7 separate regions of the Homo sapiens genome follow, and regions 2, 3, 4, 5, 6 and 7 are each reported to be linked to region 1. The links are microRNA targets in miRTarBase. Many come from high-throughput screens and were not tested one by one. Region 1 holds a microRNA gene; each other region holds the end of a gene's coding sequence. Distances are from middle to middle.
What was found. The annotated mature microRNA hsa-miR-1827 reads UGAGGCAGUAGAUUGAAU and lies in region 1 at 2,556-2,573, opposite strand. An mRNA with a match to its seed (bases 2 to 7 or 8) in the 3' UTR can be bound and repressed. Matches are read on the target gene's strand: a 7mer-m8 pairs with bases 2 to 8, a 7mer-A1 pairs with bases 2 to 7 and ends in A, and an 8mer does both.

Region 2: the mRNA of SH3RF2 is a reported target of hsa-miR-1827. Seed matches in the 3' UTR shown: 7mer-m8 at 3,545-3,551.
Region 3: miRTarBase lists CSDC2 as a target of hsa-miR-1827. Seed matches in the 3' UTR shown: 7mer-m8 at 855-861 and 7mer-m8 at 1,734-1,740.
Region 4: miRTarBase lists NUP155 as a target of hsa-miR-1827. Seed matches in the 3' UTR shown: 8mer at 2,242-2,249, 8mer at 2,215-2,222, 8mer at 809-816 and 8mer at 503-510.
Region 5: the mRNA of SFMBT2 is a reported target of hsa-miR-1827. Seed matches in the 3' UTR shown: 7mer-m8 at 3,644-3,650 and 8mer at 3,023-3,030.
Region 6: miRTarBase lists SLC35E3 as a target of hsa-miR-1827. Seed matches in the 3' UTR shown: 8mer at 2,498-2,505 and 8mer at 2,633-2,640.
Region 7: the mRNA of ZNF638 is a reported target of hsa-miR-1827. The part of its 3' UTR that is shown has no 7-base or 8-base seed match.

Annotation. Positions count from the first base shown.
Region 1 is chr12:100,188,439-100,192,504 of GRCh38, reverse strand. MIR1827 (microRNA 1827) reads right to left here and starts at 2,621; the gene lies at 2,556-2,621.
Region 2 is chr5:146,062,242-146,066,307 of GRCh38, reverse strand. SH3RF2 (SH3 domain containing ring finger 2) reads right to left here. Exons shown (of 10, transcript NM_152550.4): 10 at 3,016-3,882. The coding sequence ends at 3,607. All of the region lies in intron 1 of LOC107986458 (a long non-coding RNA gene), which reads left to right. Among named protein-coding and RNA genes, the nearest start is that of PLAC8L1, 41 kb to the left of the region's middle.
Region 3 is chr22:41,574,294-41,578,359 of GRCh38, forward strand. It overlaps CSDC2 (cold shock domain containing C2), which reads left to right. Exons shown (of 4, transcript NM_014460.4): 4 at 440-2,373. The coding sequence ends at 602. It overlaps PMM1 (phosphomannomutase 1), which reads right to left. Exons shown (of 8, transcript NM_002676.3): 7 at 3,515-3,630; 8 at 2,607-3,147. The coding sequence ends at 3,025. Among named protein-coding and RNA genes, the nearest start is that of PMM1, 14 kb to the right of the region's middle.
Region 4 is chr5:37,288,163-37,292,228 of GRCh38, forward strand. NUP155 (nucleoporin 155) reads right to left here. Exons shown (of 35, transcript NM_153485.3): 35 at 1-3,876. The coding sequence ends at 3,738. Among named protein-coding and RNA genes, the nearest start is that of CPLANE1, 41 kb to the left of the region's middle.
Region 5 is chr10:7,159,981-7,164,046 of GRCh38, forward strand. SFMBT2 (Scm like with four mbt domains 2) reads right to left here. Exons shown (of 21, transcript NM_001387889.1): 21 at 1-3,930. The coding sequence ends at 3,790. Among named protein-coding and RNA genes, the nearest start is that of SNORD129, 25 kb to the right of the region's middle.
Region 6 is chr12:68,764,198-68,768,263 of GRCh38, forward strand. It overlaps SLC35E3 (solute carrier family 35 member E3), which reads left to right. Exons shown (of 5, transcript NM_018656.5): 5 at 507-4,066. The coding sequence ends at 693. Among named protein-coding and RNA genes, the nearest start is that of SLC35E3, 20 kb to the left of the region's middle.
Region 7 is chr2:71,434,448-71,438,513 of GRCh38, reverse strand. It overlaps ZNF638 (zinc finger protein 638), which reads right to left. Exons shown (of 28, transcript NM_014497.5): 28 at 3,453-3,772. The coding sequence ends at 3,707. Among named protein-coding and RNA genes, the nearest start is that of DYSF, 30 kb to the left of the region's middle.

The DNA.
Region 1 (4,066 bases):
TATATATGTATGTATGTATCTAGCTACCTAGCTAAGTGTATTTTTCTCCTGAAATCCCTTTTACCACTCTGGCCTCTTCTATAAGGACCCTGATCTCATTCCAGAGGGGTCTGCCCTCATGACTTAATCACTTCCCACAAGGCTTCACTCTTACTACTATTATCTTGGGGACTAGGTCTCAACATAGGAATTTTGTGGGGACACAGACATTCAGACCGTGGCACTGATGATGGTTTAGTCATGCCTAGTATTTTTATTTAACTAGGTTGGAGGATTATCTTGTTTGTGTATGAAGGGTTGAAGTATTTATATGTTATGTACTGGCAAACATTTAAAAGTAGATAAATGCAAAGCTGAACCTATTTGGAGCAGTTGCTTCTTAATTGTTTCTGAGTTGGGGGTGCTGTGATGGATGAAGCTCACTTTGGCAGGTATGTGTGGCTGGGGCCAGCCCCACCCCGGTGGACTTCCTTTCCTGAAGGATTCCTAATGGCCCTTAGCATTGACTTCTCTCCTGCTGCACTTGCTTTGCTTGTATGCACATTGCCAGTTTCCTTCCACCATGGAGATAACAATTTCTTGAGAAATGAAAGGAGGGGTCAGATGCATTCGGGGTGGAGGTGTACCAGCTCCCACCTCACTGAGGCATCTGATGAGGGTAGACAGGTGTCCTTGGTCAGACGCTTTTACCTTTGAGGCACTGGGGTGCAGACTTCCCACCTCCAGTCAGAACAAAATATAGACAGTAACAACCCCTTCCTCTAAAGAAAGAAAAGGACCCTGCCATTGTATCTCAGACTGGGAGAGGGAAGGGCATTTTCATTAGCAATTTTCAGTTCTGGTATTTATGTAGTGGGGTCTTAATGATATTTGATTGGGTGTTTACCTATATCGTATCAGGCTAGCCCTCAGCTGGGTTTCGTTTACTTTCACAGAATGAATGTATTGTGGAAATGGTAAACTAGGTAGTCGTGACTAATTAGTGGCTTCTAACTAGTGTTCTGTGAAATACTCTGCCTAAAGTGCTCAGTTCAGTAAACATCCTGAGCACTCGGTTGTGTGAGACCATCTGAGGGGCAAGGAGCTGAGAGGATCCCTAGGGAGACTGTGGCTTTCATGATTGTCCAGTAGGCAGTAGCTCACCAGCCAGCACAGGGGGCCCTCAGTCGGCTAGAGATTCAGGATGGTTTTGCTCCCTGATCTAGTCTTTGAGCATCTGCTGTTGTGTCCTACTAGAGCATCACCTCCTAGGAGGAGATTTTGTCAGTATAGTTCACTACTGTGCCTTTCATGCTTAGAGGATGCCAGATGCTTATTGCCTAACCCAAGCTTTAAGCCCTCATATCCTCTTGGAGTGTGTGTGTGTGTGTGTGTGTGTGTGTGTGTGTGTGTGTGTGTAAACCTCTCCCTCTCTGGATCAGTGAGAGTGTTGTTAAGGTTACAAATAAGAAATGCCTAGCACACTGCCTGACTGATTGTAAGTGCTCTGTAAATGGTGGCTACACACCCCAGGCCTGCTGGCATTGCTGCCACTGTTGCCCCTCTGACTCTTTTGAGCCAGTAGGTGAAGTGTGTCTCCACTCCCTTGGGTGGAGTGGACAGGGTGCCTTTCTCAAGGGCAGTTGTGAGGGCTGAGCTGGCCGGGAAGGTGTGCTCTTCCTTCCAGGCCTCCCTCCCACAGGTCTTCTGCGGGCCCTGCAGTTGGCCCTGCTCTGACTCTTAGTTTTTGCTTCATTCTTGACCCACTCAGGCCTGGTAGAAAGAGTTATCTGTGAGCACGGCGGGGGTTCCCAAGAATCTATTATGGTTTTAGTGTCTAGGACTCTAAAGTCGTGACAGTGACTCGTCTCTTCAGCCCCTGTTTGCAGCAGAGGGCGCAAACCAGCTCAAAGCAGGCACACAGATGTTTGGTGAATTGGGAGAAGTTGTTCCTGTCCAGGAGCCATAACGTGGTATTTGTAATTTTCCTCGTTGGAAGGCATGGCTCTGTCTGCCAAGAAAGACAAGGCATGTAGTCACCATGCTGCTGCCTCACAGTGACATTTTTAAAGCCAGACCTTCTAGAGAAGGAAGCAGGAAGGAAGGCGACTTGCTTTTGGGCCCGTGGAGTTTCAGCAGTTGCGGGAAGTTGGCTGGGCTGTGTGTGTGTGTTGCTGCATTGGTGCCTGGTCTTCTTTGATAGCTCCCAGGAGCATGAGGTTGTGCTTAGCAGTTGTGTCCCATCAGTCCTCTTGGTCTCGATCAGTTCACACGCTCCCAGGGCCCCACGTATCAGAAGGGCCGCCGTTGCATAACACTGTCCATGGAAATCACTGCAGTCATGAGAGGAGCAGTGGCTTTGGCCTGTAGACTCAGAGACCTTTCACCATGACTCAGCATGGGAAGCGGAGGCTCAGAGAACTTCAGCCTGTCTTGTCCAGGGCCACCAAGGGAGCAACTGAGCCATGTCTTCTGTTATATTTAGAGTTGGGGGCTGAGGAGGGGCGCCTATCTGCATTCTCTGCCGGTCCTGGGTCCACCTGTTGCAGGGACCCAATTCTAAGGGACCTGAATCAATTCAATCTACTGCCTCAGCCTTTCAGAGGCTTCTCATTGCTTTAGGCTGAAGGCTGTGCTGCTGAACATGGCCTTCAGGGTCCCATGGGGTCTGACTCCTGTCATTTCCTCTGTTGCAGGCCCACTTGACTTCTTGCAGTTCTTCAGATGTATTGTCTTCCCGACAGGCCCTGCCTCAGGCTGTCCCTTTGCAGGGCGGGCTGTCTCTTCTCTGGTTACTTCTGTTCGTTCTTCAGAGAAGCCTTCCCTGTTCCTCCCATTCCTCACTGCCGTGCTTCTCCTTCACAGCCCTTACCACTGCCTGTAGTTACTGTATTTCTTTGTGTACTCATCTGTGGTCTAGCTCCCTTGCAAGGCTGGGAGCTCCATGGGGCAGGGACCCTGTCTGTCTTGTCTCTGGTTTACCCCAGTGCCTCACACGGCCTGGTACATAGTGGGTGTCCAGCATCGACTTGAGGAAGAGTGATGAGGGAAGGCTCCAGACCCTTTCAGGGGCAGAGTTGCTCTACTGCTCCTGCTCCTGCTGCTTGGGGCTCATCATCCTCTGCCCTGCACACCCGTGGCAGGGGGGGTCTGCCCACACCCACCTGCCTTTGTGCCACACTCCCTTCCCTAGCAGGACGATGGTTCCTCTCAGCACTGTCCTTTTTGTTTGGCCTCCTGGTGGGAGGTGAAGCCAGCTGGACTTCCTGGGTCGAGTGGGGACTTGGAGAACTTTTCTGTCTAGCTAGAGGATTGTAAACACACCAGTCAGCGCTGTGTCTAGCTAAAGGATTGTAAATGCACCAATCAGCACTCTGTAAAAACGCACCAATCAGTGCTCTGTGTCCAGCTAAAGGATTGTAAACACACCAATCAGTACTCTGTAAAATGGATCAATCAGCACTCTGTAAAATGGACCAATCAGCGCTCTGTAAAATGGACCAATGAGCAGGATGTGGGCAGGGACAAATGAGGGAATAAAAGCTGGCCACCCCACCCAGCAGCGGCAACCTGCTCGGGTCCCCTTCCATGCTGTGGAACCTTTGTTCTTTCGCTCTTCATCATAAATCTTACTGCTGCTCACTCTTTGGGTCCGTGCCACCTTTAAGAGCTGCAACACTCACCGCAAAGGTCTGCAGCTTCATTCTTGAAGTTGGCGAGACTAAGAACCCACCAGAAGGAACCAATTCTGGACACTGGGAAGGATGTTACCTTCGGACACAGTGTTGTTCACTTTTTTGACTGGGAACCGACAGCAGATAATACACCTTTGTATGTAAATGTATACTGTCAGTATGTACATAAAACTGAAAGAAAAATGTCACTGCTACATATAGTAAAGCTAAGTACTATTTTCTCTTTTAATACTAAAAAAAATGCTTGTCCCCTCAAAATTGACTTCTTATCTTCTTAATTTGATATCCTGGCCCACAGTGGGTCACCACTCAAGTTTAGAGAAGCCCATTCTGCAGGACTGCCTGGCTGTGCAGCTGGTGCTCCCTCCCTCCCTGCTGCATTTTCCTCTCCC
Region 2 (4,066 bases), not on the chromosome of region 1:
AATGAAGACCTGAACTGTATTTGTGCGCAGCCGAGCGTTCTAGGCTCTTTCGCATTTGCAGCCAAAAATGCACTCTGCTGCCTCCTGGCAGTCCAGAGTCAGCATCCTGAAGTCAAGGATGGGTTTTTGGTTCATGGAGCAAGTCCCAAGTTGGGCTCTGAAGTCAGACAGTTTGAGACTGTGTCCTTGCTCTGCCATCATCTGTGGTTAACTTTCAAGCTTCAGTTTCCTTGGCTCTGAAATGGGGACAATCTACCTGCCTTATAGGGATATGGTGGAAATTACATGAGGGGATGTGTTTATCATCTTCCTTGCTGTGTCTAGCACACAGTAAATATTAAAAACATGTTGGGGCTGGGTGTGGTGGCTCACGCCTGTAATCCCAGCACTTGGGATGCCAAGGCATGAGGAGGCCAAGCCGAGGAGTTTGAGGCTAGCCTGGGCAACACAGTGAGACTTCATCTCTACAAAAAATAAAACAATAAATTTACAAAGCATGTTGGTGGAATGAATGAGTTAAAGCTGCCAGTGAAGCCAACTTTTACTTGGAAAAAACATCCTTTGTCCCTTTCAAACCCTCTTAAAACTCCACAAAGATGGGATTTTCTTTGGGAGAGGGTGAGTTTGATGCTGCACATGGGTGAAGAGACTGGAGGGAGTGGAGGTGGCAAGTCTTGGAGTTGTTTGCATCTCTCAGAGAGGTTATCCCAAAGAGATAATAAATAGATGGTGGGAGAAGAATATTTCATTTCATTTGGAAGGCATGGACATCTCCATTCCATCTAAGCACCCTGCTTGTCAGCCACAAAACTTAAAAATTAACTGGATACATTGCCACTGAGGGATAGACTAAATATTTGGTCGGCCAGTCATGCCATATCTGTGCCACTCTGAGTGTAGAGTAGACTGCTAAACATTGCTAAACTCATTGAGAGTGCTTTTTGGGTAAAGATGAGGTATAGGTACTTATATTTTGACAAATCACACAATGCCTCCCTGTCCTTGGGACTTTATCTCATTTCTCCATCTGGATTATTATATTTAGTTCAATGAGGCATGGATTTGGGCATGTTGATTTTGTGGACCTAATGGGTCAATATCTCATGTTTGTTTGGGTCCACAAACATCAGATATTGACCCAAAGTTTGTGAGATGTGGACCCAAACGTGATTGAGATAGCTAGAACAACGTGCTGTCATGTTGGCTCTACCAGCCCCAAAGGTCTGACACAATGGCAGTATTTTATGGGAGGAGTATGGTTTTGTTTTGTTTTATTAAGGTCTGGAAAAAGTCTGTGGACAATTCTGTTTGCCGAGTGTGTGAGTGGGTGTGTAAAAGATACATGTTTTGAATCCCAGGACTTTCAAGAACTATCTAGGGGAAAGGTCTAATTAGACATGCCCCTTCCTCCCTCCCTCCCTGCATCTTTTTCTTTTTCTTTCTCTTTCTTTCTTTCTTTCTTTCTTTCTTTCTTTCTTTCTTTCTTTCTTTCTTTCTTTCCTTCCTTCCTTCCTTCCTTCCTTCCTTCCTTTCCTTCCTTCCTTCCTTCCTTCCTTCCTTCCTTCCTTCCTTCCTTCCTTTCTTTCTTTCTTTCTTTCTTTCTTTCTTTCTTTCTTTCTTTCTTTCTTTCTTTCTTTCTTTCTCTTTCTCTCTCTCTCTTTCTTTCTCTCTCTCTCTCCTCTCTCTCTCTCCCTCTCTCTCTCTCTCTCTCTCTCTCTCTCCCCCTTCCTTCCTTCCCTCCTTCCTTTCTTTTTCTTTCTTTCTATGGCACCCAGCCTTAGTAGCAAATGTTATTTCTGCGTTAAAGTGCCCACATTGATGGGCATGCAATAAATGTTAAATCACAACAATTAAGTTTAATGAGAATTAATGGGTTGTCTCACAGCATTGCCTTGGCTTCCTGGGATGCCTCCTCTACCCTGATTACAAGGCTCTCCCTGGCTGGTCCTGCTCACGTCAGTTCCATCTTAGTGGGGTCATCTAATTTTGCCCCATTCTTCATCGCAGGCTCTGTCCTTCTTTCCTCACCCTGTCAGGGAATGTAAGGTTGCCCCACCCCTTGTCTCCTTTAGCCTCTTCCTGTGCTTTCCCTCAATCCTCTTTCACTCTTACTCTTATGCCTACTTTCTTTCCTCCACATTTTCTTTAACCCCTCCTCTTTCTCCTTCTCCTCTCCCCTGTTTTCTCCTCCAGCCTTCTTTGTCCTACCCTTTTTATAGCAGCTTTCCCCTAGGAAGCACTCCCACCCCAGCCTCGGGCTGCCATGTTCGCACTGGTGTTGTTGCCTTGTGAGTGAAATAGCTCATCTGCCCCAAGTGAGAAGAAAGCAGGGAAAGTCAGGAATATTGCAATGCAAACAATATATATCCAAATATAGATCCTAACCCCAACCCCATATAAAGTTGTTTTTTAGCATGTTGTGCTTTCTTTTTTTCTTTTTTCTTTTTTTAGACAGAATCTCACTCTGTCACCCAGGCTGGAGTGCAGTGGTGCAATCTTGGTTCACTGTAATCTCCGCCTCCCGGGTTCAAGCTATTTTCATGCCTCGGCCTCAAGAGTAGCTGGGATTACAGGTGTGCGCCATCATGCCTGGCTAATTTTTGTATTTTTAGTAGAGATGGGGTTTGATCATGTTGGCCAGGCTGGTCTCAAACTCCTGACCTCAAGTGGTCTGCCCACCTCGGCCTACCAAAGTGCCAGGATTATAGGCATGAGCCACTGCACCTGGCCCACGTTGTGCTTTCTTGAAGTCAGACTATATATCTAAACCCTAACCCCATATAAGATTGTTTGTAAGCACGCTGTGTTTTCTTGAAGTCAGACTGTAGAGCCAGGATGAATTAATTGTCCATAATGCCATACATGGCCCTATCCACAGCCACATGCTTTCTGCTTATCTATTGCATAGGATTATATGTGGGAAAATGGATCGAGAAGCTTAAAGTATGATAATCCTTTGATATTTGGTACTCAGTGATCTCTCTGACCTTCTTAAGTGGAGCATACTCAGGAAGCTGGCTCCTTCTAGTTTTATTGGGTTCTCAGAATGTTCAAAGTATCCACCTCACACCCCGCGCAGAAATCCTCCCTTTGCAGCCAGGATTATGACTTTACAGAGGGAAAAAGATATGGCAGCTACTAGTGGCCAGTGTACAGGCCCCAGAAGATGGCAGAAGTTGTTCTAATGCTTGTTGAGGATATTGTAAGGTCAAAGAAGCAACGCCAACAATCCCACCGTTGTCACACCCCTGCTGCAGCCCCCTTTAGGACACCATAGAAATTCTACACAGTAACACGGGGATGACAAGAGGCCACATACTCCATGCTGGGGCATAAAGTGGGCACGACAATTTTTCACTCCTTGGTCTGAGTAAGCGAGCTTTGTGGCATCAAATCATTATGTTTGTATGTTTGGAAGGCCACGCCATCTATCCTCCCACCCAGGGCAGGAATTTCTGCTCCCACTTTTGCTTTCCTGGAGGTGAAATAGGAAGAACAAGGACCCATGCTCAAGTCCCCAAAGAATGGCAGGATGCCCTCAGTGGAGGCAGACTGTATTTAAATGCAATTCACCTCTTTGGGGTCTAGGAAAAGCCACCCGTAGGTTCATTTGCTGGGAAACACGGTCTGCGTGCCTGAGGCAGTGGACACCAGGGTTGTGGCCTTGCCAAGAGCTGACTTTCTCCGGAGGTCTGTCTGCTGTCCGGAGTGGCAGCCACTTCGGTGGGCAAATAGGACGGTCATCTCTGGGCCCAAGGACGCTGCTTCAGGCTGGGACGCCTTGAGGGTGGCTGGCTGTTCAGGCTTTCCGGAGGTGGGATGGGAGGTGTAATGTTTGGTGGGAGGAGGGCTGTAATTCTGAAATCTCACGGTTTTGACTTGCTGCAAGAGAAAGGAGAGGAAATGGACACAGGTGAGGTGGGAGATGTCTATTTCCCCATGCTTGTCCCCACTTGAAATGTCTCATTTATGTGTTCATTCTGCAAATATCTGTGGCTACCATGAGTGTCAAGTGCTAAGATGGGGGAAGTACAAGATGCTGAGAATGCAGAGGAGCATCTAACTT
Region 3 (4,066 bases), not on the chromosome of region 1:
CTCGCTCTGTCGCCCAGGCTGGAGTGCAATGGCACAATCTCGGCTCAGTGCAACCTCCACTTCCTGGGTTCAAGCGATTCTCCCACCTCAGCCTCCCAAGTAGCTGGAATTACAGGTGCCAGCCACCATGCCTGGCTAATTTTTGTACTTTTAGTAGAGCCAGGGTTTCGCCATGTTGGCCAGGTTGGTGTCAAACTCCTGACTCAGGTGATCCGCCCGCCTCAGACTCCCAAAGTGCTGGGATTACAGGCGTGAGCCACTGTGCCCAGCCATGAGTCCCGTTTTACAGATTCGAGAGCTGAGGTTCTGAGAAGCAAGGCCTGGCCAGGCCTCCTGGCCTAGGGAGGCTTAGGGCCAGGCTGCCCCCAAGGCCAGGCCACAGGATTGTCTGGGGCACAGGGCCTGCTGCTGGGCTAATACCCCTCTTCCTGCCCGCCAGCATCGAGGGGGAGTACGTGCCAGTGGAGGGCGACGAGGTGACCTACAAGATGTGCCCTATCCCTCCCAAGAACCAGAAGTTCCAGGCCGTGGAGGTGGTGCTCACTCAGCTGGCCCCCCACACTCCCCACGAGACGTGGTCTGGCCAGGTCGTGGGCTCCTAGGCTGAGTGGTTCACAGGCCAGCTGGCCGGGGGTTGGGGAGCCACACAGGGTGAACGGGCAGCAGCCGGCTCCATGCCCCACTGCCCTGGCTGATGAGTCCTTCGGTGGCCTCAGTGTGCACGTCTGTCTGTCCGTCTGTGCTTGTGGCTATGAGCGTGTGCCTCCACCCACCCCACGACCCGTGACTACTGTGCAAGCTGGCCAGGAGGTAGGTGGAGGGCAAGGCCACCAGACCTGGCTTCGCGCTGTCCACTGCCTCTCTCCTCCCCTCCCTGCCGCAGACACGCAGGACCCGCTCGCCCTCCTGCTTACCCGTCCCCACGGTGACTGAGCTGCGAGAGCCTGCGCTGGGCTCACTCCCTGGCCTCCGCCCCTGAGCTGTCCCGTGTCAGTCCCTGGCCCGGAGCCAGGCTCTCTGTGCTACTTACATCTCCCTCCCTTGGCTGAGGTCCCCCGCCACAGCCTGGACCCTTCCCTCAGAAGCCTGGCCGATGGGTGCTTTTGGGGAGCCTCTCAGCCTCTGGCAGGGGAGGAGGACTGACACGGAGGCACACAGGCCTCTCACTGCCGAGGCCAGCCTTCCTTCCTGCTCTGCTCTCTCAGTGCCATGGAGAGGCAGGAAGAGGGGCCTGAGGGCGGAAGGGGTTTGGGGCTCCCATTTCGCCGGCCAGTCCCTCCTCCTCAGCCTGGCAGTGGCGCTGGGCTCCTTCCCCTGGGCTGTACTGAGCCGAGCCCAGGGGTTTGCAGAGGGTGGGGGTCCATCTCTCCAGCTTGGCTGCAGACCTCCTTTACCCTGACTCACAAGCCCCACTGATGCTCTGGGCCATGCCCGGCTGACGGCTGCTGTGGATGCCGCGAGGGACGGACACACGTCCGGGGCACCCACGAGGAGGGCCCCCAGCCTGGGAGACTGGCCCTGCGGCCTCCACGTCAAACTCTCTTCCCAAAGCCCTAACAGACCAGTGGCCGAGGTGTGGCTCTTATTGCATCCATCCCTGAAGATGTGTGGCTGTTGCTGTCACCTGGAGTCCTTTTGGGGCCAAGATGTGTGTGCACCCGGGGTCGTGGCCATTCACTCCCAGGCAGGGGTGAGGGTGGCCTGGCCCAGGAGGCCAGGAAGGAGGGCCCTGTCTGCCTCCACCTCTGGGTGCACCCCCTGCCTACCACCCTCCCTTCTAGAGAGCACATCGCCTGACCGGGGAGAAGTGGGGCCGTGGTTCGAGGGAGGGCTGGCCAGGGGTGGGACCCTTATGAGACTCAGTCTGTGAGTAAAACTGGGGGCTCAAATGCCCAGGATGAGGGGATCAGTGACTGTCTAGGAGGATCCCTTGCCTTGTAGGTGCCCCAAGACCGCAGGGTAGAAATCAGCCGGGATGCCTGCATCCCACCCCCGGCCCCAGGGCCCACCACATAAAATCTGGGAGCCCAGAGCTGCTGAGGTGTGGTCAGCTCCCCTAAAATGGGCACGGCCCAGCCTGTCCCATGAGGAATAAAGGCCCCTGGCCCCCTTGAGAGAGGGCTTGTTGGTGAGGGCTGACTCCTGGGGGCCCCCAAGGCTCCCCTCCTGTGGGGAGGCCACCTTTTAAGGCACCACTAGCAGTCAGGATATGGTGGCATCAGCCCTGGGGCCTCCTGGGTGGCAGGGGGGCAGCAGCTCTCCTCCCCACTCACAGGCCCTGCAGTGCTCATTTGGAATTCCTCCCAAGACCCCTGGCCACCCAGACCCCCCATTCTTCCTAACACTGGCAATAAACCCTCAACTGTGACCCACCGTGGCCTGAAGCTGCCTCTGTGTCAGGGTCCCCAAGGAAGGGGCTGGGGGTGGACACACCAAACCAGCTCTTCTTTGGGGATTCAATGGCCCCCTCCTCGACTGCATCAGACTTCCTTTGTGACCTGGGCCAAGTCCCTGCCCTCTCTGTGCTGTTTACTTGTCGGCAAAGTAGTGGCTGTGACAGCATGTGACTGGGGCCAATTATCCATTCAGACACAGCTGACACCTACTTTGTTCTGGGAACTTTAATACTGTGACAAAGTTCTCTAAAATAGGCACCTTCCCCACCGTACCTCATCGCCCAGGGCAGGCAGGCAGGGCAGGCTAGATCTCGTACCGATACTTGAGCACGCCTCCTCCTGGTGCAGAAAGAAACCTCTTCTGTACCGAAATACAAGCAGCAGCTGTGGCCTGGGCCACCAGGTGGAGCATGGGGAACACTCTGGGCCCTGGGAGGACGAAGCCAGTGCCACTAGGAGCAGACTGGCTGGGGACGGTTGTCCACACAGACTCTGGCCCCATCTGGGTGGGCTTGCAGCAGGCGTCCTGGGCCAGAGGAGGGGCCCTGGCATCTATCCAACACCAGGACCTCTCTTTAGGCCTAGGCCAAACTCTTCAGAAGTCACGACACACAGATGTGGGCCCCGGTCACGCCTCATGAGCTGTCTCTGGGAAGAAAATCTCCCGGCATCGCTGCACCGTGTCCTGAGGAGACACCACGCTGTGGCCAACAGTCCGGGGGTCGGCAAAGATCTCAAAGTCGTTCCCACCCTGCACACAGAGGATGGGCAGAGGAGGGATATTTAGGTGGAGTCCCTCTCCACATTGGCTGCTACGGACCTGCCCCTCCTCCTGCCCCTTCAGAACTGCCAGGAAGCCCACCTTCTCACCCCTTGTCAGACCTGCCCTGACTTGCTGTGTGATGTAGAACAAGTGCCCAGCCTCTTGGGGCCCCAGCTTTCCAATCTGTGTAACGGGGCTGGTGAGCAATGGTTGTTCTCCAGGAGCCCCCTAAGAGGTCTGTTGTGTTGCCCCATGTTCTGGCCTTGACCTCAGGTGATTTGCATTGGAGAAGCCACCAGACCTGGCTTCTCACTGTCCACTGCGTTAGGGGAAACCTGGGGTGGGCCACACTCACAGGGCTAGTCTCGTTCCCAAAGAAGTGGATGGTGTCGAAGCTGTCCTGGTCCAGGCTATCCAGGCAGTAGCGCTTGTCCCAGCCCTCGGGGAAGACGTCAAAGCTGATCATGCCTCCTGTGGGCAGGGGTGGGGACTGTTATTCCCTGCTGGGAGGGGCAGACAAGGCTAACAGAAGGGCTGCTTGTTCATTCATTCATTCAACAACCCTTGAGTGCCTACTGAGGGCCAGGAATAGGACACGGGACAGACTTAGGATCCTCAAGGAAGTTATGACACAGGTTGGAGAATGAACAAGACCATGAAGTGGGTGGGGGAAGCTCATCCGGCCAGGGTGATCAGGGGAGACCTCTGAGGAGGTGGCAATGAGCTGGGACCTGAGCCGAGTGGGGATGGCTGGGGCGCAAAGTACAGCCCCTGAGGCAGGGAAGAGAACGAGCGTCCCAGCAACGGAGGAGGCCAGGAGAGGTAGGGGGAGGACGGGCAGGCCCTGGGCATCACATGGAGAGGGAGGAAGAGCCTGGGGAGGACTTTGGGCAGAGGCATGTCATGA
Region 4 (4,066 bases), not on the chromosome of region 1:
AGAATTTAAAAGAAGACATTAATAGAAAATGAAAAGAAATTGTGAACCCTTTCAAAACCTTTCAATTCAATGTTCTAGTTCTTCATTTCCTTGATACAACTCTGTACCATGGTCATAATTTTTCCGTCTCATGAATAGGAGGAAAAATGACAGGAATGGAGACTACCCTGAGGAATACTTTTGAGATCAGTGGATAGGTGTTCAATGAATAAGTCAGGTATACCTAAAGAAACACTAAATGTACATGTACATCAGTCAGTATCTCATAGCATAAACAGTTAGTCAAGATAGCTTTCTCTTTCCTAACCGTTTTGCCATACTACAATGATCTAGTTAAAATACAAATTTCACAACTTCAATGATTCTTCACTGCCCACAATTAACGCACTGTTTCATAGACTATGTTCTACCAATTATACATTGCCTACATATAATAGTCACTATAAAGAAATAATGGACAGGCATGGTGGCTCATGCCTATAATCCCAGCACTTTGGGAGACTGAGGCAGGGGAATCACTTAAGGCCAGGAGTTTTGAGAGCAGTCTGGGCAACAGAGTGAGATCTTTTGGCTACACAAAAAATTAAAAAAAAAAAAAAAAAAAAAGTAGGGGGGGTGGGGCTAGGCGCAGTGGCTCATGCCTGTAATCCCAGCTCTTTGGGAGGCCAAGGGGGGTGGATCACCTGAGGTCAGGAGTTCAAGACCAGCCTGACCAACACGGTGAAACCCCATCTCTACTAAAAATACAAAAAAAAAAAATTAGCCAGGCATGGTGGCGCATGCCTGTAATCTCAGCTACTCGGGAGGCTGAGGCAGAAGAATTGCTTGAACCCAGGAAGTGGAGGTTGTGGTGAGCCAAGATCGTGCCATTGCACTCCAGCCTGGGCAACAAGAGCAAAACTCAGTCTCATAAAAAAGGCTGTGGTGAGCCAAGATTGTGCCATTGCACTCCAGCCTGGGCAACAAGAGCAAAACTCAGTCTCAAACAAACAAACAGACAATAGCAGGGTGTAGCAGCACGTGCCTGTAGTCCCAGCTATTTAAGAGGATGAGGTGGGAAGACTGAGTTGAGCCCAGGAGCTCGAGGCTGCAGTGAGCCAAGATCATGCCACTGCACTCCAGGGCAAGCCCTTGTCTTCAAAAAACAAAAAAATTCAAAAAAGTAATGCGTTGAACAAACACCAAGTACAAAGTATACTAATACAGTGGATAAATGCTACTCCAACTCTGATCCACTGACTGCCAGGATCAGCATGACACTACAGATGGAACTCAAGAATCTGTCATAACAGGCTATCCGGCTGATTGTTCTGAATGTGAAAGTTTTAGAAACACTGTTCCAAGGGTAAAAATGAGGGGACCTAATTTCTTCTCTCTTAGGAATCTTACCCCCCAAAAGGTATTGCAAGCATCTGTTGTGGGGCTGGAATTCCTAAAACCTCTCAAAGCATGCTGTGTGAATAAAAGGACAGTGTTCAGATTTCTGACTCTAACAGACCATCTAACCATGGAAGCCTACAGCCCTTTTAAAACATGTACTTTCAATGTTGTGAGCTGAGTATATATAACAACATATTGCTAGTATGTAAATGTGCTTAAAACAAAAATGAAGTTCTTATCTCTAGCAGAACTGGAGTCACACCTAAATTACAACATTCAGACAAGGCCTTCCTTTTAAGTAGACATGACAGAATTTTAAATTTATAAAACGAATTAATGTATCGCATACATTCACTTTACATATTCAAAAAACGCTAAACTTAAGAAACTGAAAAGTTGAAAAATAAGAGGTAGTAGTACCCACTGAGTGACGTTCTGGCATTCTATTAAATATTCTACATTAGAAGATTATAGGGAAAAGGGAGCTGAATTCTAAGAGAACAAATGTAGAGAAGGCAACCCTATGGTCTTGGGAAAAGACAATAATGGAAGGAAAAATATATTCAAAATGTATTGTACAAATTGTTAGACATGCATCACTTACAATAAACAGAAGGTAATTATTTGTGGTAGCATAAAGAGAGAAGGGAATAGGCCAGGCACATTGGCTCACGTCTGTAATCTCAACACTTTGGGAGGTGGAGGCGGGCAGATCACTTGAGGTCAGGAGTTCAAGACCAGCCTGGCCAACATGGTGAAACCCATCTCTACTAAAAATACAAAAATTAGCTGGGTATGGTGGCGCACACCTGCAATCCCAGCTACTCGAGAGGCTGAGGCAGGCAAATTGCTTCAAACCTGTGAGGCAGAGGTTGCAGTGAGCCGGGATCGCACCACTGCACTCCAGGCTGGGCTACAGGGTGAGATTCTGTCTCCAAAAAAAAAAAAAAGAGAGAAAGGAATAGAGTGTTTTGTTAGCTCTGGTCATTCCCACTCTTCTTCTCTCTTGTTGCTATTACTTTGAAGCATTTGGTTTGGTTATTCTATTTTGTTAAGGAATAATTAAAAAGTACATTACTAACAGTTTTGCTTTATATATTGTGTGCCTTGGGCAAAATTTGTGTGTGTGGTTATTCACAGAGGAGGAGCCAGATAGGTAGCTCAGTCCATAAACTATGGAAGGTAGCAGTATCCTTTACTGCAGTGGCTTTCAAATTTGACATGCACCAAAATCTCCTGGAGAGCTTGTTAAAACATAGAAAGCAGGGCCTCATCCCCCACGTTTTTGATTCAGTAGGTCTGGGTTGGGGCTCGAGAATTTGCATTTCTAACAAATTCCTAGGTGATGCTGATGCTGATGCTGATGCTTCTGGTTTGGAGCACATACTTTGAGAACCACTGCTCTAATGGAATCAGTAGTCACAAGGCCAAGCAGCCAGGTAGACACTAAGGGAAAACAGTACCTCCCTGTGTAGGTTTTCAGGACACAACATTAGTTACAAGTTTTATCACCTGCTCAACCAGGTATATAGCTATGTCAATTCTCAAGGGCTTTAACTGACAAAACCAGTTGTTAGAGGACAGTTCTTTCAAGGGTGAACCCAACACCTAAAAAAAGTTTTGAAAAAGTCAGTTATTTGCCTATTTAAGGACGGTTTTAGAATCCACTATTATGGGAATGGATCTGCTTAGCCTATTTGAGGTTTTTTTGTTTTTTGAGACAGAGTCTCGCCCTGTTGCCTGGGCTGGAGTGCAATGGTGCGATTTTGACTCACTGAAACCTCTGCCTCCCGGGTTCAAGTGATTCGCCTCCCTCAGCCTCCCGAGTAGCTGGGATTACAGGCGCCCGCCACCACGCCTGGCTATTTTTTTTTGTATTTTTAGTAGAGATGGGGTTTCACCATGTTGGCCAGGTTGGTCTCAAACTCTTGGCCTCGTGATTCGCCCACCTTGGCCTCCCAAAGTGCTGGGATTACAGGTGTAAGTCACTGTGCCTGGCCGCCTAGTGGAGTTTTAATGCCAATATCCTTGGACTAACTTGAAAATGAATAATATAAATTCGAAATTTCTGCCTGCAGTACAATTCAAAATAAGAGTTTCTAAATTTTTTTAATCCTTATGTTAAAATAATAAATAATCTCATTTCAGTTGTTTTTTCACCCAATTACTAAAAAACAAAATAGTCATAAAAAAGAATTCATTTAGCAAAGGTACTATTTGTAGATATTAGCCACTTATTAAAAACATATTTCTATTAAGATTGTTCTTACATTCTTAGATTTAGAACACCTGATATCTGGACCCAGCTGAGTTTTTATTTTACAGATCATAAAACGGATGAAAGTATATCACAGTAATTAATGAAGCCGTTCTAATTTAGCTTGAAGAGATTTAAAATTCCCAGTGATGGCTTGTACTGCTACTGACGAGCTCATAGACTGGAGCTCAACAAGGTAACCACAAACAGCATCCAGGCAGAGATTTGTAAATCTTCTCCTACAACGAAAAAGACACATGATTAATTATACATTTACAAACATTTCCTCCTGCAGGACTTCTTCCCCACCAACTTCTGGCAACTTTAATTCTCACAGGAGAGGAAAGACCATGTGATTAAGTAAATAAGAAATAAAGTAAAAAAGAAAACTTGGGTGTAGGTGGGTTCCATTTGAAGATTTTTTTTTTT
Region 5 (4,066 bases), not on the chromosome of region 1:
ACCTTCTAGAGAGGGCAGTGTTCAAGGTGTGGATCATTTTAATGTACTGAGGAACAAATCAAAGCAAACACAGGAAATAATCTTTCGAATATGATCAAATAAGGTGGGAGAACCCAGAAGCCGTGCAGCTCAAATACTGTGTCTGACTCCAACTTGGATCAAATGACTCTAATTTTGAAAGTGATGGATGAGTTCCCCACGCTGTGCAGCTCCGTGGTGAAGTTCACTGTGTTTTGCTTTTGTTTTGAAAGGCAAAGAAGTTCTGTAATGCCAGTAGTACCCTGTTGTTTTTCTAGGTTGTTAGGCTTATGTCTTTGTGGACAGGATATTTTTTCAACATAGTACAAATACAGTCAAGAAGTGAGGAGCTGAAACAAGCTCCATGAGTTTAGGGTGAGACTGAGCGATGGGCTGTCATGATTCAAGTTGAGGTGGCATCTCTTTCTCAGGGTTTTCAAACGGCGCAGACTGCAGAGTCTCCCGGGCCAGTTCCAATAAGTTCCAAGTGGCATGATGCCCACAGGAAGTAGGCGCACTAAGGAGAGGACTTTGGTCCCAAAGAATCATCAAAGAGAGACGGAGAAGAAACGGTACCATCCAGGGAAGGAATGCGGGGCATCACTTTTTGGTGTTTAGACCATGACATTGTTGGCCTAGGGGCTATGGTGGCATCGGGGCACGCATGTCAAATCCACTTTTTCTGGCAAAAGCAACAAGGACACACACAGAAAAATGCTCCATGAAATTGGCCCTACCTTTAAGACAGACGCTGGTGAGAGGTGAATCCTACAGAGAAATGAAAACACATTACAATTCTGTACCAGAACTGCTGCTGATGTGAAGTCCATCCACCACGACGGAAATCCCCGGAGAATCCAGGCTCAGAAGGACACTGGCAACAGCTGGAGGAAAAGCACCTCCTGGGTCCTAAAATCTTTCTGGGCTCTCCTCAAGGACCGGAGAGATGGCACAGAGACAACTTTCATGGCGACGCCAGGCTGCGCCCTCCTGTGCAGTGGTCCCAGCCATCTCCTCCCTGGCACGTGCACAGACAGTGCTCACCCATGGTGACCGCAACTGCACAGAGAAACGCTGAAGTTAAACTGTCAGGGTGAAGGATACGGAGAGTCTTGGGCGCTTGGCTCCACGGGAAGCAAACACTTTCCCCTGCGACAGTGGCTGTATCCTTCCTGAGCTCCTGGCGGGCCACACACTCTAGCTTCCTAGATGGGCTCCAGAGAGCTCCTGGAGGATCCCCTCCCTCCAACGCAGCACCTCCTCCTCCGTGCTACCACTGAAAAGGGAGACAGAAGTGACATTTGTGCTGCAAGTCCCTGTTCTTTTGTGGCCACCACATTCCCTCACCCTCGTCTCAAATACAACAGGAACAGCTGAGCTTGAAAAGGCCACAGTGAAGGATCATCAAAGAGTCAGCGCGGGGAAAATGCCAAAGATCTGGAAATGGATGCCCTTTCCAATCGTTTGACAGAGTTGAACTCCACAAGACTGAGCGTTTAAGGCCAAAAGCATGTGGCTGAGAAGGCAGGGGTGGAAAACCGCAGAGAGTTCAAAACTTGAGCTTAAAGGAGAGATGCCCGGGGCAAGCCAGCCACAGATCCCAGAGACATTTCTGTCGGGGTACAACTGACACACTCCTCCCATCTGAGGTCCCCAGGCAGATGCATCAGCCGAACTCTAAAACTTGATTCTAGAAATCGACTGCAGGGGAGACCAAAACGCCTCATCCATAAAATATGTGTTTTCCATTCTCATCTGTAACCATTACAGAATGTTAAGAAGGGTGAGCTTGAGCAATCAAAGTTTCCAAAATCCCACTGAGAATCATATCTGGAAATGTCACAGAAATGCAAGCAGCTCATCAGCCCACCGCAGAATTTTACTGGAACTGTGGAGACTCTAGTCCAAGGGACGAGCTCAAGGTGATTGTGGTGAAAAAGCAGGAAGGGTGAGAAGCCTCTGCTTCCAGTGTCTGCTTGGGAACTGTGGGAGGGTTTGGTTTCCTTGCATAAGTTTAAGAAGGCATCTTGGCAGCCACCACAGCGGAACACTGTAGTCCACAGGGTCTGAGTGGAGATATGGAATCGCTCATGAGGATATGGAGATGGCTTCTGGTCCAAGAGGCCAGCCAACTCTCGCAGCCACAGCTTTGTCTGCACGTGACCTGGCGGATTTAACACAACTGCCCAGGAAATTCCACAAGCAAACTCAAAGCCAGAAAGAGCTGTAAGAATGGCCGAGTCAGAACTGGGACCAGACCCTTCTTATTCTTTCTTTTTCTAATTTTTGTACGATCTGGATCTTCCTTTCCAGCATGAGTGGGGTGAATGCCAGCAGGAGACAGTGTGCTCACCACCGCACCCTCAGGGTCCACACCTGTCACTTCACAGGAATGGAGGTCCAGAGTGATGAGAAGTCACCCAAGATCTCAGAGTTTGTTCTCAGCGAAACCAGGGTGCCAAGTGGCTGACTCCAGATTCACTGCTCCTGCTGCATCATGCCTGGTTCATATGCTGCCAGCTAGGGCAGAACGAGACAGAAGGGACGCTCAGAGGGACTCCTGCTCGGTGACCTGCTGCAGTGATCCTTCTAAGGGGGACGTAGCTGGTTGATGAAATGCTTCCCTCACATCTCTTTCCCTTCCTCCTCTCTGAAACTAAGCTTTTCCTTTGATATATAATCCAACATTTGCCTAAAAGACTCACTCCCTGATCCGGCTACGATTAAACAACAACACTGGAGATAGTTGAGGGTCTAGAAAAGACTGGGTAGAGTTTGTCTCTACAGATGTTCTAGGCTTCAATCAAAAACCATCCAGTTGGGCCGGGGCGTAGTGGCTCACACCTGTAATCCCAGCACGTTGGGAGGCCGAGGCGGGCAGATCACTTGAGGTTGGGAGTTCAAGACTAGCCTGACCAACATGGTGAAACCCTGTCTCTACCAAAAATACAAAAATTAGCCAGGCATGGTGGTGGGTGCCTGTAATCCCAGCTACTTGGGAGGCTGAGGCAGGAGAATCACTTGAACCCGGGAGAGAGAGGTTGCAGTGAGCTGAGATTGCGCCACTGCATTACAACCTGGGCGACAGAGCAAGACCCTGTCTCAAAAAACACAACAAAATGAACAACAAACAAACAAACAAACAAACAAACCATCTAGTTGCATGGAGATGCCTGCCGGCCTTCCTTCACTCCCCGTATTCCTAAAAGGCACCTCTAACAGAGGACAGAGCTTTAGCACATGTTTTTATAAGGATGTCGCTGCCAGCTGCATTGCAAAGGAGTTGCCACCAAGATGAAACCGCAAGTGCCACTCAACCAGGGTCACACGCCTATCCATGGGAAACTGCATATATAAATGTGCTCGTGTGATTACAGGAAACACTACAGCATGGCGTGAGGTTTCTTCCTTGGCGACATTCTTTGTTTTCAAAGAATGCAGTCCTCATCTGAGGAAACCCTGCTCCAAGGGAGCTGCCTGATTTGGGGCAGGAGAAAGGCAAAACGTGGGTGAGCCAAGAAGCAGGCCCACGTCTGGCAGGGTCTGATGCATGACTTTAACTGGCACTCCCCAGAAGCGACTGCTGCTGTGCTTTGAAAACATGGAAACAGCTCACAGGCTGGCGGAGGCAGAAGATCCTGGGCTTCTGGTTTTCTGGTGATACTTAGTGGCTGTACCATTTAACATATCCCGGAAAATCAAAGTTTCAGTCCTGGAAACCTTTACCAACACCGCATCCCAGCAATAATGGGCCACCTCCCGAGGGCAGACTCAGTTGGCGTACTGGGCGTAGAAAGCCACTTTGACTCTCTCGATCTGGTGGCATAACTTGATGGCAGGCCCCAGCTTCAGCTCCATGCACTCCTGCACCGTCGGAAGGGTCAGAAGCAGGAGTGCTTGGCCGTCAATATCCTGCAGGAAAAGAAAGGCAGGTTAGAGAAGGGGCAGTGTGCACTGGGGTACACAGATGCGTCACAGCAGGCTCCAGTCCGGGGCCAAACATGACAACAGGATGCTCTTGTTTCATTCAATTCAGGGGATTGTTGGT
Region 6 (4,066 bases), 31 Mb from region 1:
TTTTCTTTTTTGGAGGTCAGTAGGAATGGTTGAGGCAGTCTTGTGTCTCTGATGAATCAATCGCTAAAACCTACCTGAAGAAACTAAGAAGTTCCCATTATTCTCTTTTTTTAGACAGTCTTGTTCTGTCGCCTGGACTAGAGTGCAGTTGTGCATTCTTGGCTCACTGCAACCTCCACCTCCTGGGTTTAAGTGATTCTCATGCCTCAGGCTCCCAAGTAGCTGGGATTGAAGGCATGTGCCACCACGCCCAGCTAATTTTTGTATTTTTTGTAGAGACAAGGTTTCACCATGATGGCCAGGCTGGTCTCAAATTCCCAGCCTCAAGTGATCCACCACCTCAGCTTCCCAAAGTGCTGGGATTACAGGCATGATCCACCACGCCTGGTCCCATTGTTCTTTACATCTGATGGGCTGCTTTTGGGTTGTTTTATGCAGTGCGAGTGTGTGTGTAAATATTAACATCTATCTTGTTATTCCTTTTTATCCTTATCCAAAAACCTCAGCTATAACATGTTCGGACACTTCAAGTTCTGCATTACTTTATTCGGAGGATATGTTTTATTTAAGGATCCACTGTCCATTAATCAGGCCCTTGGCATTTTATGTACATTATTTGGCATTCTCGCCTATACCCACTTTAAGCTCAGTGAACAGGAAGGAAGTAGGAGTAAACTGGCACAACGTCCTTAATTGGGTTTTTGTGGAGAAAAGAATGTTGTCCCAAGAAGATAAAAAATATTGTTAAGTGTGCAAGTTATTAAAAAAAAAAAATTGGGCCAGGCACGGTGGCTCACGCCTGTAATCCCAGCACTTTGGGAGGCCAAGGCCAGCGGATCACTTGAGGTCAGGAGTTCGAGACCAGCCTGACCAACATGGAGAAACCCTGTCTCAACTAATAATACAAAATTAGCCAGGCGTGGTGGCGCATGCCTGTAATCCCAGCTACTCGGGAGGCTGAGGCAGGAGAATCACTTGAACCCGGGAGGCGGCGGTTGCAGTGAGCCGAGATCGTACCATTGCACTCCAGCCTGGGCAACAAGAGCGAAACTCCATTTCAAAAAAAAAAAATTGGTGACAGACTCAATGATGGAATGATTTGTCGGAATTAACACAAAGCAGATTTTATTCATATAATGACTTTTTTTTAAGAGTCTCTTTTTTAAAAAAACTTAATTCTCTAAAACCGAAATGGTTCATGCTTCTTTTTAAAAATGATTGTATAAAATGTATGGAATGGTTAGCCTGGTGTGGTGGTGCACACCTGTAATCCCAGCTACTTGGGAGACTGAGACATGAGAATCGCTTGAGCCTGGGAGGCGGAGGTTGCAATGAGCCAAGATCGTACCACTGCACTCCAGCCTGGGCGACAGAGCAAGACACTGTCTCTCTCTCTCTCTCCATATATATATGTGTGTGTGTGTATATATATATATATGTGTGTGTGTGTGTGTGTATACATATATACACATATATACACACACACATACATATACATGTGTATATATATACCATCCCATATATATGTGGGATATATATATATATATATATGGATATGGTTATATATATGGGATGGTTTGGTTGGTCCCAGCAAAGTATATGAAAATTAAAGTTCTGTGATAATGACAAAGGAATTGCTGTTACTGTACTGCAAATATGCTGTGGGTTCTCGGTGTTCAAACTCTTCTAAGGAAGGACACACAGTAGCTCTCTGCTTGCTGATAGATGGTTTCCCAGTGTGAGATTTGTTATTTTGATCAGAGTATTCAAATCAGAATTTAAATCTAGTGTTTCTATTTTAGTTTAGCTTCCTGATTTATATAAATGAAATCTCATTTATAAAGTATAATAAAGATGACTGTAAGACAAAATCCAATTCTAAAAGTATGATTTTTTTCTAGTAGAAAATTGATGTAAGAAATCATACATTATTCATACATTTATAGGTCATCTCTTTGAGTTTTCAGTGAACTATAGAAACTATATGGAGTTAAAAAACAAAACGGCAGCCAATCTCAGTGGCTCACACCTGTAATCCCAGCACTTTGGAAGGTTGAGGCAGGCAGATCACCTGAGGTTGGGAGTTCAAGACCAGTCTGACCAACATGGAGGAATCCCGTCTCTACTAAAAATACAAAATTAGCCAGGCATGGTGGCACATGCCTGTAATCCCAGCTGCTCGGGAGGCTGAGGCAGGAGAATCGCTTGAACCCAGGAGGCAGAGGTTGTGGTGAGCCGAGATCATGCCATTGCTCTCCAGCCTGGGCAACAAGAGTGAAACTCCATCTCAAAAAAAAAAAAAAAAAATAGCCCTATGTTTAAATGGCTCAAAGAAAAGACTATAAATGGAATTGAACATGTTTGTTAGCTGTTTGAGCATTTTATATTGGTAAATTTTTTATTTTCTTATTTTTTGTCTTACAGTCGACCAGGCTGGAATGCAGTGGCACAATCATGGCTCACTGCAGCCTCAGCCTCCTGGGCTCAAGCAATCCTCCTGCCTCAACCTCCCCAGTAGCTGGGACTACAGGTGCACACCAACATACCTGGCTGATTTTTATATTTTTTGTAGAGACAGAGTTTTGCCATGTTGCTCAGGCTGATCTCAAACTCTTGAGCTCAAGCCATCTGTCTGCCTCAGCCTCTCGAAGTGCTGGGATTACAGGCCTGAGCCACCACACCTGGCCAGTAATTTCTTAATCCTACCTCCCTGCTTCTATTGCCTAGCCCGTACATTTGAGGCTTCCATGGAGCTTTCTGTGGTACTGAAACACTTGGAGTGAACTGCAAACTTGGAGTGAACTACATCCAACCTTTCTAAGGTGGCTGGGGAAAATTCTTGTACAGCAAGTTGGGACAAAATAGCCATATAGAAACAGCCATATAAGATCCCAATATAGAAAAATTGGGATATTAGAGGAAATACATGATTTCCATTTATGGAGTGCTACATGTTTGCAAAATGTATTTCTGCTTTTCATCTTCTTGACATCTGAATATTAAAAGCAGTTGTTGATAATTTCATATAATAAATTGAGACATATCATTACTCTTGTAATAATTCATTTTCTAAATGTTATTTATCAACTTTCATGGAGAAAACAACTCTTAGGAGAACAAAGACCAGCCCGGGCAACATGGCAAAACCCTGTCTGCAAAAAATACAAAAATTAGCCGGGCCTAGTGGCACGTGCCTGTAGCTCCATCTACTCAGGAGGCTGAGGTGGGAGGATTGCTTGAGCCCAGAAGATGCAGGTTGCAGTGAGCCGAGATCATGCCACTGCACTTCAGCCTGGGCGACAGACTGGACTCTGTCTCGGGAAAAAAAAAAAAAAAAAAAGGGAAGAGCGACAAAATATACCTTTTGATAAGACAGTAAATTTTATGTTTTGTGTTTTTTAACACAATAAAAATATATATACACACATATAATATACCTTTGGGGTTTTTAGGATTTTTTTTTCCTGGACTCTGAAATGAGAAGCCTCGCTGAAAATCTGTTTTGGAGAATTCCAGTTTGTCAGTCAGTCTCTTGTGTAATTAGTACGTGTGGCTTCCTTCTTTGTTTTAAATATTCTTTGGTTCTTCTCATTTTACAAAGATATATATTTTTTGTGCTAAGGACAGAGCAATTAGTTTTTACCAGATAAGCCTCGGGTATTATGTTTGTCTAAGAAACATTCTCTGTGTATGTTTAAATTGTAATTATTTCCCAAAAGCTGAGGAAAATGTTTCAGCACAGTGAGGATTTGACGTCTGCACTGAGAACAGCTGAGTTTATTTGTGCCATTTAGAAATTCGTAACTGTAGGCTGGGCGCAGTGGCTTACGCCTATAATCCCAGCACTTTGAGAGGCCAAGGCGGGTGGATCACCTGAGGTCAGGAGTTTGAGACCAGCCTGGCCAACATGGCGAAACACTGTCTCTACTAAAAATACAAAAATTAGCTGGGCATGGTGGCGGGCGCCTGTAATTCCAGCTACTCGGGAGGCTGAGACAGGAGAATCACTTGAACCAGGGAGTCGGAGGTTGCAGTGAGCCGAGACTGCGCCATTGCACACCAGCCT
Region 7 (4,066 bases), not on the chromosome of region 1:
GGCTGAGGCTACAGTGAGCCAGGATTGCACCACTGCACTCCAGCCTGGGTGACAGAGAACCCTGGTCTAGAAAACAAAACATACACTTCAATTTCCATCTATGGGAAAGCAATAACCAGTCCAGAAGCAATGAACACACCTAATCAGCCACTGTTCTTTAGAGAAGTAGCTGACCCCAGGTCTGGAGAAGTGAGCCTGAAACATCTTGACATACAGATAACTACTAGTAGAAATGAGGAAATCAAATCAAATGTGGGACATATAAGGATCAATAACACTAATACTGCAGAGGTTTCAAACATCAAATATGTTAAAATTTACAAGTTCATACTAATGCTTAAGAAAAAATTTATCACAGTGGATGCCAAAGAATCAACTCATTCTGAAAAAAATAGGTAAGTAAAGGAAAAGCATCCCATATCTGTGTCTTTCTTACACAAACCGTACCGCTAGTAGCCAAATAGCAGATGAGGGGGAGTTTCTCCTTGCAGAGAAATATTCCTGCTTACACATGAAAAAGGGATATAGAATTAAGATATCATTATTTTGCAACCCCTAATGAACAAGTGGATCAAAACTAAGCATCAGCTGCTACTCAAATCCCAAAGAAGGCAATCAGTTTGCGCCTCCTATCGGGAAGACCACATCACTGCCTAAAGTAGTCTCATCAAAAAAAAGAAAGAAAAAAACAAACTCTAATCAAGTGTCTATATTTACTTACCAATTTATGAGCTACAGAGAGAGCAAGGGACACGTTAAAGGTACTACATGGTTGCAAGCAACAAAGTCAGACCTGGGGAAACCTGTCAGCAGTGCTTCTCAAACTATGTGCTTGATCAGTTTTCTTTTTCTCCCTAATTTTCAATTAACTATAGACCAATAATTCTGTAAAATACAAAAAAAAAATTTTTTTTAAAAACCCCACAAAAACATACAAACTCCAATTTTTTTATTGTTAGATTCAATAAATGAACATAAAATCACTGTCAAAATGTTTCTAGAAACTCTCAATTTCTGTACTTCAGTAATCATAAACTAATACTAAAGTTTCTGAACTGGCACTGCCCTGGGTCCCAAGACATTTTGAGCAGCACTGCTTGGCACAGCCAAGAATCTAGTTTCTTTACCAAATAAATTACAAGGACGGAAGTAGGGAGGGAAGAACCTATATATTCAAAATAGTATAATTTAAAGGACCTACCAGCCAGTCACAATATATGGATCTTATTTGAATCTGGATTCAGACTTAGTAAACCAACAACCACAAAAAAACGATTTATGAAACAGTTGAAAATCTGAACCAAACTATTATTTAAATAAGAGATTTTTTAATGGTACTGGATATTTTTAATATAAGGGTTAAAAAGAACTCATATTTTAGAAATACACAATGAACAATTAACGGGTAAAACATACTGATATTTAAAGTAATACAAGAGAGTTGGGAGTAGAGATACACACAGACAAACACAACTGGCCTTAAGTTGATAATTATTGAAACTAATTAATGTATGAGGGTAATTATCCTATTGTCTTAATATGCTTGACATTTTCCACAATCAAATAACAAATCAGTAAAATTAAAAATTTAAGTTTTAAAAACCTGACTCCCCTATAAATGTTTTTTAAAGAAGGATTAAAAAGGAGTAATTTTGGAGAGGCAAGTTTCCACAGCATCCTAATGCCAGAAAGGGTAATAAAATCTAAAAACTTTTATAGAGATCATGTTGAATGTAAACTTTTTTTGCCTTGGAGTCTAGATGCTGAGTTTGAGACCAGCCTGACCAACAAGGAGAAAACCTGTCTCTATTAAAAAAAAAAAAATACAAAATTAGCCGGGCGTGGTGGCACATGTCCGTAGGCCCAGCTACTCGGGAGGCTGAGGCAGGAGAATCGCCTGAACCCAGGAGATGGAGGTTGCGGTGGGCCAAGATCGTGCCACTGCACTCCAGCCTGGGCAACAAGAGCAAAGTCTCAAAAAAAAAAAAAAAAAAAAAAAATTAAGTCAGCTGCAATCCTAATTATATCCCTCAATCAACTAATAAGCAGAAACTACTATGTATATGACGTTCCATTTGTGTGGTGTGACTAAAGGAGGAAGATTTTCTGAAAATGCCAAGAACAATACTAAAATTATATGCAAAGAGCATGTTTATTTTCTGAAAACCTCATACAAATCTTTTGTATTTGAAGCCCTATGATAAAAATTACCAGCATTAAGTGCAAAAAGTCCCAGAGAAAAACATTATTTATAATGTACAATTAATGGTCAACATTGGTCACTAGGATAAAACACAAAAATCACCCCTACCATTTTTATGCTTTAGCAGCTCCTCCTCTCATTCTAATTTAGAATCCCAATTTCAAAAGACTGATCCAGACAAGATTAAAGAAGCTTATAACTTCCCTAGTTGCAAAAGTTCCAAAAGCAAGCTGAGGAGAAAGGAAGATTCTTTAAAACTAAGATTCTTATTCACTATCACTGTGCTTCTGTAATTTACAGGCACCTTATTCCCCAATCTTTTAACAGCTCTTCTCCCTCTTATTATCCGGATTCATCTGTAAGGTTTTAATTCCAACAAACTCTTGACAGCAAGCCGCTCCTCTCTCTACCCCACCCCTTGTCTGTGACGTGTAGCATTCTGTAATTTTACTCAGGCTGTGGGTAAGTCTCGACTAAGTATGCAGTGAGTTTCATAGGAGGTGACAAAGAGGTGCTGCCTTTTTTTTTCTCCAAGCCCTTCTTACTGACTGTGATGTCTCTTGTGCTGTGATGGAAATAAGACATCTAAAAAAAGTAGGGTTTTTGTTGTTGTTGTTGTTGTTCCCCTCCATTCATCCTCTTTGTATTATTAATTGGTGCACTCTATCTTGAGGCATCAAATACTAAAACAATTATAAGTATTCAGACTATGTCTGAAGAATGGCTCAATCTAAAAACTTAAAAGTATAGGGCTATTTCCATCACCTGCTAGCCATTCAATTATTTTTTGTGCCCTTAAAACTTCTTATAAACATATTCAACTATAATTCAAATGGTTTAAAAAGCTACTCTGGTGGTCCACAGAAGTAATGGCTGCTCTGTAGATTCAAGCTAATAATAAATGACTAGCTTGGTGTTACCTTAAATGGGTTCTGGCAGAAACAGCAAGTGTTACCAGAAGCAGAAAAAATACCTTTCCAACACATATAAAAATCAAGCAAAGTTTCATTCAAACCTATTTGGGGAAAATATGCTGTAATCTAATTTTATCCAGAAAAAATTTGAATTTTAAGAAATCTATGACCTGTATACACATGAATGGTTGAAGCAAAGTAAAACACTGTCATGCTATGACTTCCAGTGATACATGAAGAATCCCCAAACATCCCAAATCACAGGAGTTGTAGTGAAAAACCTTGTCTGCAATCAGAGGCAAGCAAGTCTTTAAAAAATCAGCCACAAACACAGATGGTATTTTAAATATACAGTAGGAACATTTATTTTAACACTTCTAAAAGATATTTCTCCATGCCTGATGATTTGATATAAAAATCAAACCCATCATACTTTCCCCATCAGTCTCTCTACATTTAGGGCAATCAGAAATTTGTACAACACGAATATTTGCTTCTGAAACGAAAATTACAAATTAAATGATAACAAAAATACACAAATCAACTGGACCCTAAACAAATTTCTAGTGAATTCTTTCCTTTCCCCCAATCACCTAGAGCTTCTTTCTTCAGCCTCATTCTGCTCCTTTTCCTTTCTTTGCTTGGCCATGAATTTCTGTTAAAAGCAATTTGCAATATAAAATACTTATTAGACGTTATTTTGCTATGTGTGCAAACTTATCTACTGTATATTTATAATTTAAAAGAAACTGATCCTACAAAATATTATAAACACAGTGCCTTATATAACCATTTCTTCCTTTCATTCATCAGTCATTTGATGTTTATGACACACCAGGTATTACACTTGGTGCCTGAGGATTCGGTGGGCAACAAGACAGATAGAATCTTTTATACAATAAAGCTTACATTCTAATGGGAGAAGAGAAACAATAAAAGAAAAAAATAA